2 linked regions of the Homo sapiens genome follow. The protein of the gene in region 1 purifies or fractionates together with the protein of each later gene. This does not show direct contact. Each region holds a gene or a part of one and is shown on either strand. Other genes may lie near its edges.

What was found. The genes of interacting proteins can lie anywhere in the genome.
Region 2: the proteins of ELF1 (region 1) and HSPBP1 purify together in Homo sapiens (affinity purification with mass spectrometry; 2 studies listed by BioGRID and IntAct, with this or other methods). This does not show direct contact.

What each region holds. Positions count from the first base shown.
Region 1 is NC_000013.11:41,016,317-41,023,153, reverse strand, and holds the start of ELF1 (ETS-related transcription factor Elf-1), read left to right. Parts: upstream 1-3,837; 5' UTR 3,838-3,926; intron 3,927-6,837.
Region 2 is NC_000019.10:55,263,101-55,270,128, reverse strand, and holds part of HSPBP1 (hsp70-binding protein 1), read left to right. Parts: intron 1-3,842; coding exon 3,843-3,998; intron 3,999-4,146; coding exon 4,147-4,243; intron 4,244-4,739; coding exon 4,740-4,851; intron 4,852-7,028. UniProt on the Homo sapiens protein: Inhibits HSPA1A chaperone activity by changing the conformation of the ATP-binding domain of HSPA1A and interfering with ATP binding. Interferes with ubiquitination mediated by STUB1 and inhibits chaperone-assisted degradation of immature CFTR.

The DNA of each region.
Region 1 (6,837 bases):
GGCATTTAAATTCATTCAGTTGACTCAATCTCTCTCAGCTAATAGTTCAAATATACATGTTGACAATTCCATGAGCAGCCATGAAAGCTTTATATAAGGTATATACTGACTTGATCCATATCTAATTTTATAAATAAACATACCCACAGTATGTACATTTCATATACCTAAACTAGATTTATTTCTTCCTTCCTCCCTTCCTCCCTTCCTTTCTTTCTTTCTGTTCTGGGGTACATGTGCAGAACTTGGATATTTGTTACAAAATGTGGAGGTCTGACACAGAGTCTTGCTTGGTCACCCAGGCTGGAGTGCAGTGGTGCAACCTCGGCTCACTGCAACCTCCACCTCCCAGGTTCAAGCGATTCTCCTGCCTCAGCCTCCTGAGTAGCTGAGATTACAGGTGTCTGCCACCACACCTGGCTAATATCCGTATTTTTAGTAGAGACGGTTTCACCATGTTGGCCAGCCTGGTCTCGAACTCCTGAACTTCAGTGATCCACCTGCCTTGGCCTCCCAAAGTGCTGGGATTACAAGCGTGAGCCAACGTGCCTGGCCTAGATTTCTTTTTGTTAAAATCAGTTTTATTGAGGTATGGTTTATATGCAGTACAATTTGCCCTATTTAGTTTTATAGCTCTATGAATTTTGACAATGTACATAAGTCATATACCGGTACCACAGTCAAGATACAGAATATTTCTGTCACCCTCAACAGTTCCTTGTCTTCCTTTGTAGTCAACCCCCTCCCCTCATTTCCAGCCCCTAGAACTGATAGGATTTCTGTGCCTTCTGTTTTGCCTTTTCCATTATGTCACATATAAATGGAATCATACAGAGTCATGGAGTCAGTCTTATTTTGTTCAGCCTAATGCTTTTAGGTTCATCCATGTTGTCACATATATCAGAAATTCAGACCTTTTTTGTTGCTGAGTAGCATTCCATTATATGGATATACTATACCATTCCATTACATGGATTTATCCATTCACACATTGATGGACATTATTTGGGTTTTCAATATTTGGTGAATGATAAAACTGCTATATATATTTGCATAGAAGTTTTAAAATAGACACATATCTTCATTTCTCTTGGGTAAATGCCTAGGAATGGGATTACTGGATCATGTGATAAGTGTATGTTTATAGAAACTGCTAAACTATCTTCCGAAGTGGCTAAACTTTTGCATTCCCACCAGCAATATATGAGAGTTGTAGTCGCTCCATGTTCTCATCAACACTTGGTATTATTGGTGGTTTTTGTTTTGTTTTGTTGTGGTGGTGTCACATTAATTTGCATTTCCCTATTGAGTATTGATGTTGAGATATTTTCATGTACTTTTTTTGCCATCTGTATGACTTCTTTAGTGAAGTGTCTATTCAGATTTGACCATTTAAAAAACTGGATTGTTTTCCTATTTTTGAGTTGTGAAAGTGCTTTATGTAGTCTGGATAGCAGTGTGTGGACTTATTTTAATCCTCATAATCTGTGTGGTAGATACTATTAGGCTAAATGATAGATAAATAAGTTATGATGCAGGATTGTTAAGTAATTGCCCAAGATTACATAGCTAATAGGTAGCAGAGCTGGGATTGAAACCCAAGTAGATTGACTAGAACCTGTGTCAAACTGTTTGCCTTTTTTTTTCTCTTTGATCCTCTCATATGCAGAGATTGACTTATTGGGGCTGTAAATAGAACAAGGATCCAGTTCCTGTAGGTGATAGAATAATGCTAATAGGGATACCCCTGGGCAGAGGGATAATATATTGTAATGGCAGCTCTGGAGTCATCTCCTTAGGAACAGCTAAGATATTTGTTTCTGTTGAAGAGGTGTAATTATTTTCCCTTTAATTCTCTTCACATTACTGGTGGCCAGAGTACTTCCTTTAAATTATGTTTGGAATATTTGCCATTATTAAGTAATGAGGTGCATTATATAAATGGATTTTCTCAATAGCAGAAGCTTATCCTTTTAGATACCTGTTCTACATAAAACATCTCACACACTTGATGTTACACACTTTGGCTTTCGAAGGCCTGTCTTAAACTAATGCTGACTTGGAGACACTTAGTGTATGGTAATATACTTAGGGAATATTACAACTTACTGACCTTATATAATGGCTTCATATCTGAATACTTTTAAAGTTATGTTTATTTTTAGTTTTGTAAGGTGGGTTTTTTTAATGTCATTATCAGCTATTTCACTTTTTCTGACATCCTTTTATAATACTGTTGCCCTCTTTTACCTGTTACAGTTTTTATTTCTAATTAGCCAAAAGAAGATAATCAAATTGTTAGGTTTACATTCATGTTATCTAAAATAAATTTCAGATATGGAAAATTACCTGGGGGGAACTTTCCAGGGAACAAGTGAATCTCCCGTGACTGCTCAGCGGACCTTGTTTCTTGGTGCATGGGCTCTGAATAGTCATTTTGTGTAAGTGAACTAAAGTAAGCTAAATATGACATTTGACAGGAGAAAACATGGTCTATATTTCTTTTTAATAAATTTTTAATTAACAGTTTGTAAAACCATGGAGATTATTTTTCAGTAAAAGGATAAACCAAGCAATCTTCAGTGTAAGGAATAAATAGACAGCAGGCAGAAAGTTGGTTCACAATCATTGCTGTTTTGCAGCATTTTGTAAAGTTCCTAAGTCAGTGACAGCTTGTGCTCTCAACTATGCCTCTGGTAAGCCAGAATAAACTCCCAACTAATTAACTAAAGGGAGAAAACCTTGCTAAATCCTATTTACTTTTTGTAAGATACCAGGACGAAGGCTATCTATTGAGTTGCATTTATCATTTCAAGCGCTTTGGAAGTACTTAGTGCTTTCAAGCCATTTTGATTAATTTAAGCTCTTAGAATAAATTAATAAGTATTCACCCAGAGGCCAGAATAAGTAGGTGTAGTAATATTTCAGTGGCTTGGGCACTTTGTCAGATGTATTCTGACTTGGAAGGCAGAGCTTCACTGGCCACAGTTGTCCCCTTAGGTTGGCCTTGCCACAATTGCAGTGGAGCTGTAGCAGGGTGCCTGGCACAAGAGGCTTGAAATACATGTAGAAAATTTTGCTTGAAAGGTAAGTCAAACTGTAGCTATCATTTGGAAGTAGTAGAGTTATGAACTATGATCGTACCAATACTTTTTTAAAAGGGTTTTATCAAGCTTGCAGTTTATTTAAAATCATTTTGCTTTGTTGGACTTTAAATTCCTAACATTGGAGTGTGGGTTTTTAAAAATTCTGTAAACCAGTTTAATTCACACTTATTTTTCCACTGAACTTTGAATTTTCTAGTGGATTTTATCTGTTTAGTGAACTTACAGATCTGCATCTGGCTTTGTAGTTTGCTAGCCTTTCCAGACTACATAGCAATATATCTCTTTCATATGAGGGTTAATGAGTAGCCAGATTACACTCACCAGTCCATTGTTACATTAAGAGCCACAGAGTTTGCTATCTCCCTTCCATCCCCTTTCATACTTTTTTCCTTTCACAGTTTTATTTGATATAGTAAAGCAACTTTTAAAAATTGAGATTTTTATATTTTAAAACAATATATAGTTTTTAATTTTGCTCCCTTGTAGGTTCTTACTCTATTTTATTGTTAGTTTTAAATTATGGCAATTAATATGAGCTTAGTAATGGTCTAATCAAGGTAGATCTTGCTCCTTGCCTCTTCATCCCCACTTTCCTATACCGTTTTTACCTGCAGATTTGCATGTTTGACCTAGCAGAATAATTGGGTCCACAGCAACATGGGCGTGCCTCCCTTAGAAACACTTGGTTTCATGTATGACTCATAAGCTGAAGCACAGACACCACTTCCCCAATCTACAGGAGCCATTTTAACAGCTAAAACTTGTCGGATTGCTTTTTATTTTCAAGCTCAAAAGACGATAGAGAAAGAATACTTGAAGGTAACTTGTTACAATTTTGTATGTTTGCTTCTGGCTTTTTCTTGAGCTGATAAACAGAGGGTGGTTCTTACCTGTTGAAGAACATGGCTGAATGTGTTCTTTAACCCTCTGATAAAATGTGTGTGGTCAGTCACATGCCTGATTGAACTTAATTGCTAGGGGGAAACAAAGCACTGAAATTCTGGAAAGTTTTAGATCTTCTTGCTAAAGCATTTTGTATGTCTTTGTGATTTTTTTTCTATGTAATTTAAGAATAAAAGAGGTTTTTTGTTTGTTTATTTGTTTTTAAGTACCACAAAGCAAACTAAGGTCAAATTTTAATTTAAAAAACCTAATTGTATTTTTTGGGGTAGTTGAAGTTACAGTTAAGTAAACCGTATTATTCCTGTGTGATATAGATGTTAAATATCCAGGGGCAGTGGCTTTGTTTTGGCATTTTAGCTAAGGGTGAAGTTTTGGGACAACTCAGCCATAGGTGTTGCTCATTGACTGTTATTTATTTATTTTTTTCTCCCTCTCTGTTTTTTAAAGTTAATGAAATTATATTAAATGTTTCATTTTGGAAACCCAATGGAAATTTAAATGAATTGTTATTTAGATAATAAGTAAAAATGAATATTAGATTATTTAGATAACAAGTAAAAGTGAATATTAAATAGAGGAAGAAAGACTAGAATGATTCATTTACTATTAGAAAAAAATGAAGTTTTATAATTCACACTGAAAACTTGTTCTGAGTAACAACCTTAGAAGTAAAGCTGTCTTCTAAGGAAACGTAGTTATTTCAATTTTGTGTAAAAAGAAAAAGTGATGAGTATTGGCCTTCCTTTTGTATTACTGTTCTTAAAATTTGCCTGCCTTGAATTAAAAACCTTCTGTAAATGAAAAGATTGCTCAGTCTTTTCCTGAAGTACTTGTCATTGTAGTTATGAGATTTTGGCTGGCAAGTATACATCCTACTGTGCCTTAAAGTTCTAGGTGCTCTGTAAAGATGAGTGCAGTAGTATTTTATTTCTGAAACATATTTATGAAGATAAAATTGGAATATGCAGTGATTCCAAAAAATAAAGTTTTTGGATATAAAACTTGCCAAATCATTTCTTGTTGACCAAAATGATATTTAGCTAGTTCTTTGAGAATTTGCTATGCACTTACTAAGTGCTTGAAGGCCTGTCAGATTAAAGGGAAGAGACAAAGGCAATCAGTTATTATTTCTTACTCTTTTGTAAGGATTGTTGATATTAACAGATCTCAATTTTGCGGTCTTACAAGAAAGACACAGCGGACATTTTACCAATTCAGCTGAGCCATTTGCTATCATCTTTGTTTGCATATTGCTGGTTTAGTCAGCCTTTGAGTAAGCAAAAGCTGTATTTACTTCTAGTCTGGTCTGTGTGAAAAATCTAATGAAGACTTTTCTATTTTTTTTTTTAACTTTTTTAAGGTGGTGATCCATAAGAGAAAAATCAAGAGGCACACAAATAAGCGGCATAATTAAGATCTTATTTATTAAAGAGAAGTAGAGGAATTTGGTTTCTTAAATTTAAGAAGCTGGTACAGTTAAAGTAGTATAGATATTGTTTATGTATTTTCTTACGTGATAGAGACTGAAGTGGAGTTTCAAGGAGAAGGGAGAAGGGGGGGTAAAAAGAAGAGAACCAAGAAAAGACCAGAACAATTTATTAAGTATTTCCCTCTCCACGTTTTTCCTTCCATAAGATTGAATGTAAGTTTGAACTGACCCATCAGAATTAAATTTAGAATTAGTGATTTATAGAACTTTAGTGCTGAAAGTGACTGAAGATTGTCCAACTGCCTCACTTTTATAGATGAAGAAACAGTGGCCCACAGAGGTCCTGTGATTTGCTTGAGGTCATGCAGTACCTAATGGCAGGGCTTCGCAGTCTGGAACTGCTTGTGCCAGTCACAAGTGATGCTTTGTTTGAAATGCTCTATATTTCCTTAAGAGTAAATAAAACCTTAATTAAGATGTTTGGTGATAATCTTGGTGATAAGTTGCAACCAAATGGATCAACCAATGATTTTGAAAATGTAGTTTTCTTTTTCATCAGAAAGATGATGCATTCATTTTATTTCTACAACAACTTTTTGTTTTTCACTGTTAGAATTTTTTTGTTCATGACTGCTTATTTTAAGATGGCTTTAGATGGAAATATGAAGAGGTGGGAATTAAATTTGAGCTTCTAGATACAAAGACAGTTTTATTTCTGCTTTAGTTTTAGCTCATATATATATATATATATATATATATATATATATTTTTTTTTTTTTTTTTTTTTTTTTTTTTTTTTTGAGACGGAGTTTCACTCTTGTTGCCCATGCTGGAGTGCAATGGTGCAATCTCGGCTCACTGCAACTTCCGTCTCCCGGGTTCAAGCAATTCTCCTGCCTCAGCCTCCCAAGTAGCTGGGATTACAGGCATGCGCCACCACGCCCAGCTAATTTTGTATTTTTAGTAGAGACAGGGTTTCTCCATGTTGGTTAGGCTGGTCCTGAACTCCCGACCTTGGGTGATCCGCTCACCTCGGCCTCCCAAAGTCCTGTGATTACAGGCACAAGCCACCGTGCCCATCCTTGCCTCATATTCTTTTAGGAGGGCAAATATTGTTTAATGTGATACCTTGTTATACTAAAATATGTGTATGTGTAAAACTTTGCATGTGACTTTACAAAATCCAGAGGTGTCTAAGCTTTAACATTACACTTATCTTAAATTTGACCTTATTATAAGATAGTAATCTCATTTTATTTATCTTTGTCACATCTTCTCCTCCTCCTTTGAAATAAGAGAATTGTTTGGTATATACAAAATCTTTTGTCTGTTAACTTTTTGGTGTGTTTTATTGGGGTGGTTGGAAATTCTCTAGGTCTGAAATTCAGATTTTTAATG
Region 2 (7,028 bases), on another chromosome or scaffold:
GGCATCTGTCCTTTTTTTTGGTGGCTGCAGGGTATGCCATTGTGTGGCTGTCCAGTACCATTACTGGAGTTCCGTGCTGGGAGCCATTTGCAGGGTACGTCCCCTCAGCTCCTGCTGCCCGAGGCGGTGGTGCCACTGCCCTTCCCAGGACAGGAGGGGATGGACTCGCTCGCCCTCTGTGGAGCCACTCCAAAGTGGTTCCTTGTTACAGTCTACCAGAGTGGCACATTTATTACAATCGATGAACCTACATGGACACCTCATTGTCACCCAGAGTCCATAGTTGACACTGGGGCGCACTCTTGATGCTGTATGTACTATGGGTTTGGACAACTGTATCATGACATGGATCCATACTGTAGTATTCTACAGAGGAATCTCGCTGCCCTACAAATCCTCTGTGCTCCCGCTAGTCATCCCACCCCTGAGCTTTTTACTGTCTCCATAGTTTTGCCTTTTCCAGAATGTCATATGCTTGGAACCATGCAATCTGCAGCCTTTTCCGACTGGCTTCTTTGGCTTAGTAATCTGCTTTTAAGGTTCTTCCATGTCTTTTCTTGGCTTGATAGCTCATTTCTTTTTAGCGCTGAATAAGCGTAACTTTTTTAAGGGAGATGTGTGGGCTGCAGTGATGACTTTGGCTTTCTTTCCAAAAATGACGGCAGCCATACTGTGATCCCTGCCCCCAACTGCTGCACAGAGAAGAGGGTGAATGCGGCGAGGGTGGGTGGAAGGTGGGCGGTGAGCTGGGGGGTTATGGTGATAACCTAGGCAAGAGATCAAGGTTGTGGTAGGGAGCAGTGGTTCTCAAACAGGGACAATCGTGTCCTCCACAGGACATTTAGACAAATGTCTGGAGACATTTTTAGTTGTCGCAGCTGGGAGAGAGGGACTATTGGCATCTACTGGGTAGAGGCCAGGGATGCTGCTCAACATCCTGCAATGCACAGGACGGGCCTCCCAACCCAGAATGATCTGGCCCCAGATACCAACCGTGCCCAGGTGGAGAAACCCTGGCGTAAAGGGGACAGGTCTCTCCTGGGTACATTTTGAAGGTAGAGCTGACAGGCCTTGCTTACAGATTGAATGAGAGGAGTCTTTGTGTTTTCCAGTCCATGCATGCCTGTTCTTTTTTCTTTCTTTAATTAAATAACATCTGGCTGGGCGTGGTGACTCATGCCTATAATCTCAACATTTTGGGAGGCCGAGACAGGTGGATCACTTGAAGCCAGGAGCTCAAGACCAGCCTGGCCAACATGGTGACACCCTGTCTCTACTAAAAATACCAAAAAATTAGCCAGGCATGGTGGGGCATGCCTGTAATCTCGGCTACTCGGTAGGTTGAGGCATAAAAATTGCTTGAACCCGAGAGACGTATGTCGCAGTGAGCCAACTGCCACTGCACTCCAGCCTGGGCGACAGAGCGAGACTCTGTCTCAAAAATGAAATAAAATAAACTAAAATAAATAAATATGTAACCCAATATGTCCAAACTATTATAATTTCAATGTGTAATTAATATGGACTATTAATGAGACACTGTATTTTTTGTCATGCTAAGTCTTCAAAACCTAGTGTGTGCATTTTACAAATGAAGCACATCGCAACATGCTGAGTTTTCAGGGGTAGTGTGGAGTGCGCCAGAGCAACAACGTTGTGTGTGTTTTTCTTTTTTTGGTTTTCTTTTTGTGTGTGTGTGAGATGGAGTTTCGCTCTTTTTGCTCAGGCTGGAGTGTAATGGCGCAATCTCGGCTCACTGCAACCTCCACCTCCCGGGTTCAAATGATTCTCCTGCCTCAGCCTCCCTAGTAGCTGGGATTACAGACGCACGCCACCACGCCCAGCTAATTTTGTATTTTTAGTAGAGACGGGGTTTCACCATGTTGGTCAGGCTGGTCTCGAACTCCTGACCTCAAGTGATCTGCCCACCTCGGCCTCCCAAAGTGCTGGGATTACAGGCATGAGCCACCGCGCCCAGCCAACGTTGTGTTTAATGGAAAATATTTTACACTGCTTCAGTTTTTCACCTTAAGTTTAAATGAATGGAACTTAAATGAAATGAACAACTCTTTTCCTTAGTTGCACTGGCCACATATCAGGTGTTTAGTGGCCACAAGCTACTAGCAGCTTCTGTCCTTCTTGGCCAGCACAGGCCTAGAGCCTACCCAGGAGGGGGCACCTTACTGGAGGTGCACTCCAAAGGTCAGTTCTCATCCTGCTGGGAGTCCTTCCAGAGTTCTCATTGCCCTCTGGATAAAGGTCATGCATGCTGTGTAGCCTGGCTCTTTAGGCCTCAGTTTCCTCATCTGTAAAATAGAATTCTGAAAGCACACACTTCCAGGATAATTGTGAGGATTAAAAGATGTTGCGGACTGGGGACGGTGGCTCACGCCTGTAATCCCAGCACCTTGGGAGGCTGAGGCAGGTGGATTATGAGGTCTGGAGTTCAATACCAGCCTGGCCAACATGGCAAAACCCTGTCTCTACTCAAAATACAAAAATTAGCTGGGTGTAGTGGTGCATACCTGTAATCCCAGCTACTCGGGAGTCTGAGGCAGGAGAATAGCTTGAGCCTGGGAAGCAGAGGTTGCAGTGAGCCAAAATGGTGCCACTGCACTCTAGCCTGGATGATAGAGCAAGACTCTGTCTCAAAAAAAAAAAAAAGAGAGAGATGACACAGCCGGGCGCAATGGCTCATGCCTGTAATCCCAGCACTTTGGGAGGCCCAGGCAGGTGGATCACTTTAGGTCAGGAGCTTGAGACCAACCTGGCCAACATGGTGAAACCCTGTCTCTACTATATATACAAAAATTAGCCGGGTGTGGTGGCAGGTTACTATAATCCCAGCTACTTGGGGGGCTGAGGCTGAAGAATAGTTTGAACCTGCGAGCGGAGGTTACAGTGAGCCAAGATTGCTCCACTGCACACTCCAGCCTGGGCAACAGAACGAGAGTCCATCTCAAAATGAAATAAATAAGTAAATAAATAAAATAAAAAAATTAAAAAAGATGATGCTTCCATCAATGGAGGAATGGATAAAATATGGTATATCCATACAATGGAATGTTATTCAGCCATGAAAAAGAATGAAGTGCTGATACCACTTACGACATGAATGAACCTGGAAAACATCATGCTGAGTGAAAGCAGTCAGACACAAAAGGTCACGTATTTTATGGACACATTTATATTAAATGTCTGGGACAGGTAAATCCATAAAGGAAGAAAGTATATCTGTGGTTGCAGGGGCCAGAGGGAAGGGAAATTGGGAATGACTGCTCATAGGTTTCCTTTGGGGGGTGATGAAAATTTCCTAGAGTTAGTGGTGATGGTTATACAACCCTGTGAATATCTTTAAAAGGCTGAACTGTGTGGATTGTGAATTATATCTCAAAAGCATACTTCAAAAAAAGATAATGCTTGCATATGCAGGCCCATGGCAAGGGATGATAGTGGTTGGTGGTGATGATGGTGACGATGATTGACGATAATTATATTGTTAATGGTAGTGATGATGATGGCGGTGATGGTGATGTGGTGGTGATGGTGATAGTGATGGTGATAGTGATGGTGATGTTGGTGATGTCATGGTGATGATGGTGGTGGTGATGGTGGTGGTGGTGATGGTGATAGTGATGGTGGTGGTGGTGAGGATGGTGGTGATGGTGATGGTGGTGAGGATGAGAATGGTGATGATGATGATTGTGATGGTGGTGAAGATAGTGGTGATGGTGGTGATGATGATGTTGGTGATGGTGGTTGTGATGATGTTGGTGATGGTGCTTGTGATGACAGTGGTGGTGGTGGTGACTGCAAGCTCAGGACCTTTCCCCCTCTCCCAGGTCTGGTCCGAGAGCAGGAGGCTGGGCTGCTGCAGTTCCTCCGCCTGGACGGCTTCTCTGTGTTGATGAGGGCCATGCAGCAGCAGGTGCAGAAGCTCAAGGTCAAATCAGCATTCCTGCTGCAGAACCTGCTGGTGGGCCACCCTGAACACAAAGGTGTGGCAGCCCTTGAGTGAGGGCAGGAGTGGGGAGCAGACGCCCTGGGGTGGGTGCAGGTGTGGGAGAAGGGGAGGAACAGGCATCCCGGGGAGGGCATAGGAGATGGGTGGGGCTGCCCCTCTGACCCCTGCAGCCCTCCCCCCAGGGACCCTGTGCTCCATGGGGATGGTCCAGCAGCTGGTGGCCCTGGTGCGGACAGAGCACAGCCCCTTCCACGAGCACGTGCTTGGAGCCCTGTGCAGGTACTTTGGCTCCTTGAGAGGACGGGGCCTGGGGTGGGGGCCCCGTCCTCTCAAGGTGGGGGTGGCTCAGGAATCAGCCCGTAGGGACTCAGGAGTTGGGACCTTCCCGTAGAGAGGAAGGGTGTGGGGCCAGAAAGGAGCAGGAGTCAGGGAGCCTCAGTTTCCTCACCAGTAGGGCTGGCACAGAGGCCTTGCAGGAGGGAGAGAGGCTTCTGTACACGCCCCCACCAGTGGATTAGTGTCTAATCAGATGATGCTGGAGCTCTCAACAGCACACCAGAGTTGACACGCACCAGGCCCTGTGCTGAGCCCCTCAGCACCCACCCTGGGCCAGGGGCAGCGTGAGGTCCATTCCGCAGATGGGGAAATGGAGGCCCATTGTGGGGCAGCGACTTGCCAGGCTCCTGAGTGAGCCAGGGGACGGGGCGGGCGATAGGGTTGGGTCAGTGAGGCCTCTAGAGGGAGGTCCTAAGGGCCGCTGTCATGTCCCTCACAGCCTGGTGACAGACTTTCCGCAGGGTGTGCGCGAGTGTCGGGAGCCGGAACTGGGCCTGGAGGAGCTCCTCCGCCACCGCTGTCAGCTGCTGCAGCAGCATGAGGAGTACCAGGTACATGGGGAGGGGACGGGGTGCAAGGAGGACCAGGTGCAAGGGGGAGGGGACAAGGGCTCCAGGAGGACTAGGTGTGTGGGGAGGGGATGGGGTTCGAGGAGGATCAGGTGCCAGGGGGAGGGGACAGGGGCTCCAGGAGGACCAGGTACACGGGGAGGTGACGGGGTGCAAGGAGGACTAGGTGTGAGGGGCAGGGGATGGGGTTCGAGGAGGATCGTGTGCCGGGGGAGGGGACAGCGGCTCCAGAAGGACCAGGTGAGTTGGGGAAGGGACAGGGTGTGAGGAGGACCAGGTGTGAGGGGGAGGGGCCTGGGGGGTGAGGAATTCCCCAGGTTAGACCAAGTGTGGTAGTGGGGACCCTAGTAGGGGCAGAGCCAGCCAGTCCTTGCCCTTGGGGGCTCCTGGGTCCGCTGGTTCAGGCTTTCATTCGTGTTCTCGTGCATTTCACTTATCTTCCATTCAGCAGATGTTTATTTCATGCCTAGCATTCGTCCCGTGCTGTGTCAGAGTAGGAGAGACAGCAAGGAGACAGGAGCTTGGAGATTCTTAAAGTGTTGCCCAATCATTGAATTATTATCTAAATTACCCAATACAGTTGTTTTACATTAAGTAAATGTAAATTGAATATAATATCACTCAAATGTCTTAATGATTTAACTATTTCATTAAATTGACAAGAAATAACAAATGGCAAAAAATAACCAATTATTTTGGGTAAATAACAAGTGATAAATAACAAGTCATCAGATATTTAATTAGATAAGGGGCAAATAAATAACTCATTAGATAACTAGATAAGTAACAAATGCTAAATCACAACTAATTAAAATTCAAATAGTTAACTGATTAAGTAATGCATTAATTTGTTGAAGTGAATGAATCAATGCTGGTGCTTCAGCAAAGCCGAGCTTAGCAAACGCACCCACCTCCTTGGGACGTTATATTCTATTAGATTCATTCCTGTGTAGACACTGTCAAGTGTCTGTATGTATTGAAAGTGTACTACATGGCCAGGCATGGTGGCTCACGCCTGTAATCCCAGCACTTTGGGAGGCCGAGGCAGGCAAATCATGAGGTCAGGAGTTCGAGACCAGCCTGGCCAACATGGTAAAACCCCATCTCTACTAAAAATACAAAAAATTAGCTGGGCATAGTGGCAGGTGCTTGTAATCCCAGCTACCCAGGAGGCTGAGGCAGGAGAATCGCTTGAACCGGGGAGGCGGAGGTTGCAGTGAGCCAAGATGCGCCACTGCACTCCAGCCTGGGCGACAGAGTGAGACTCCATCTCAAAAAAAAAAAAAAAAAAAGTGTACTACATGAGAAGTTTTGACTTATGTATACACCCGTGGAAACATTCAAATTAGATTTGTAACAGATTTTACTAATGCTTTGTGAATAGGTTCCGTAGTCACATGGTTGAAAATACAAGACCCGCAGGAGGGTAAACAGTGAAAAGTCTCTCTCCTGCCCCTCCTTCTGGCTACCCAGTTGCTCAGGTGTCCTTCTTAAAATATTAGGTACACACGAGCAAAGGTGCATGTGAATTCTCCTTTTTCTCTATGTTATGCAAAATAAGCCTGCCGTGCTGTGATGGCTGTTCTGCCCCTTGCTTTGTGGGCATTGCATGTCTCGCCTGTGGCTCTTTCATTTTGCAGCTGTACAGTGCGGATGGGCTCTTTTTTGTAGCATGGATATGCAGGTTGTTTCTACACTCTCGCTATGACAAACACTGCTGAAAGAATAACCTTTTGTATATGTTATTACATATGTCTGTAGAACAATTTCTAGAAGGGAAATGGCTGGGGTCAGGTATGTTAAAGGTGAAGGTTAAAGGGTTAAGGGCCGTTTCATTAGCTATCACCAAGCTGCTCTCCATAGAAGTTCAACCATTGACACTCCAGTCATGAGGGTGCCCAACTCCCCAAATCTTGGTCAGGACAAAGTGGCCTCGATGAACCATTTGACCTTTTTTCAAACTGATTGTTGAAAAGTAGTACTCCAGTCCAGTTTACATTTCTCCCATGAGTGAAATTTGGCATCTTTTCTCTTTCTTGTGAACTGTTCGTTCTCATCCTTTGCCCACTTATCTATTTATTGGGTGATGGTTTTTGCGAATGACTTTTTTAAGCTCTTTAAGAGTTAAGTATATTAGCCATTTGTGCTATGAATCACAA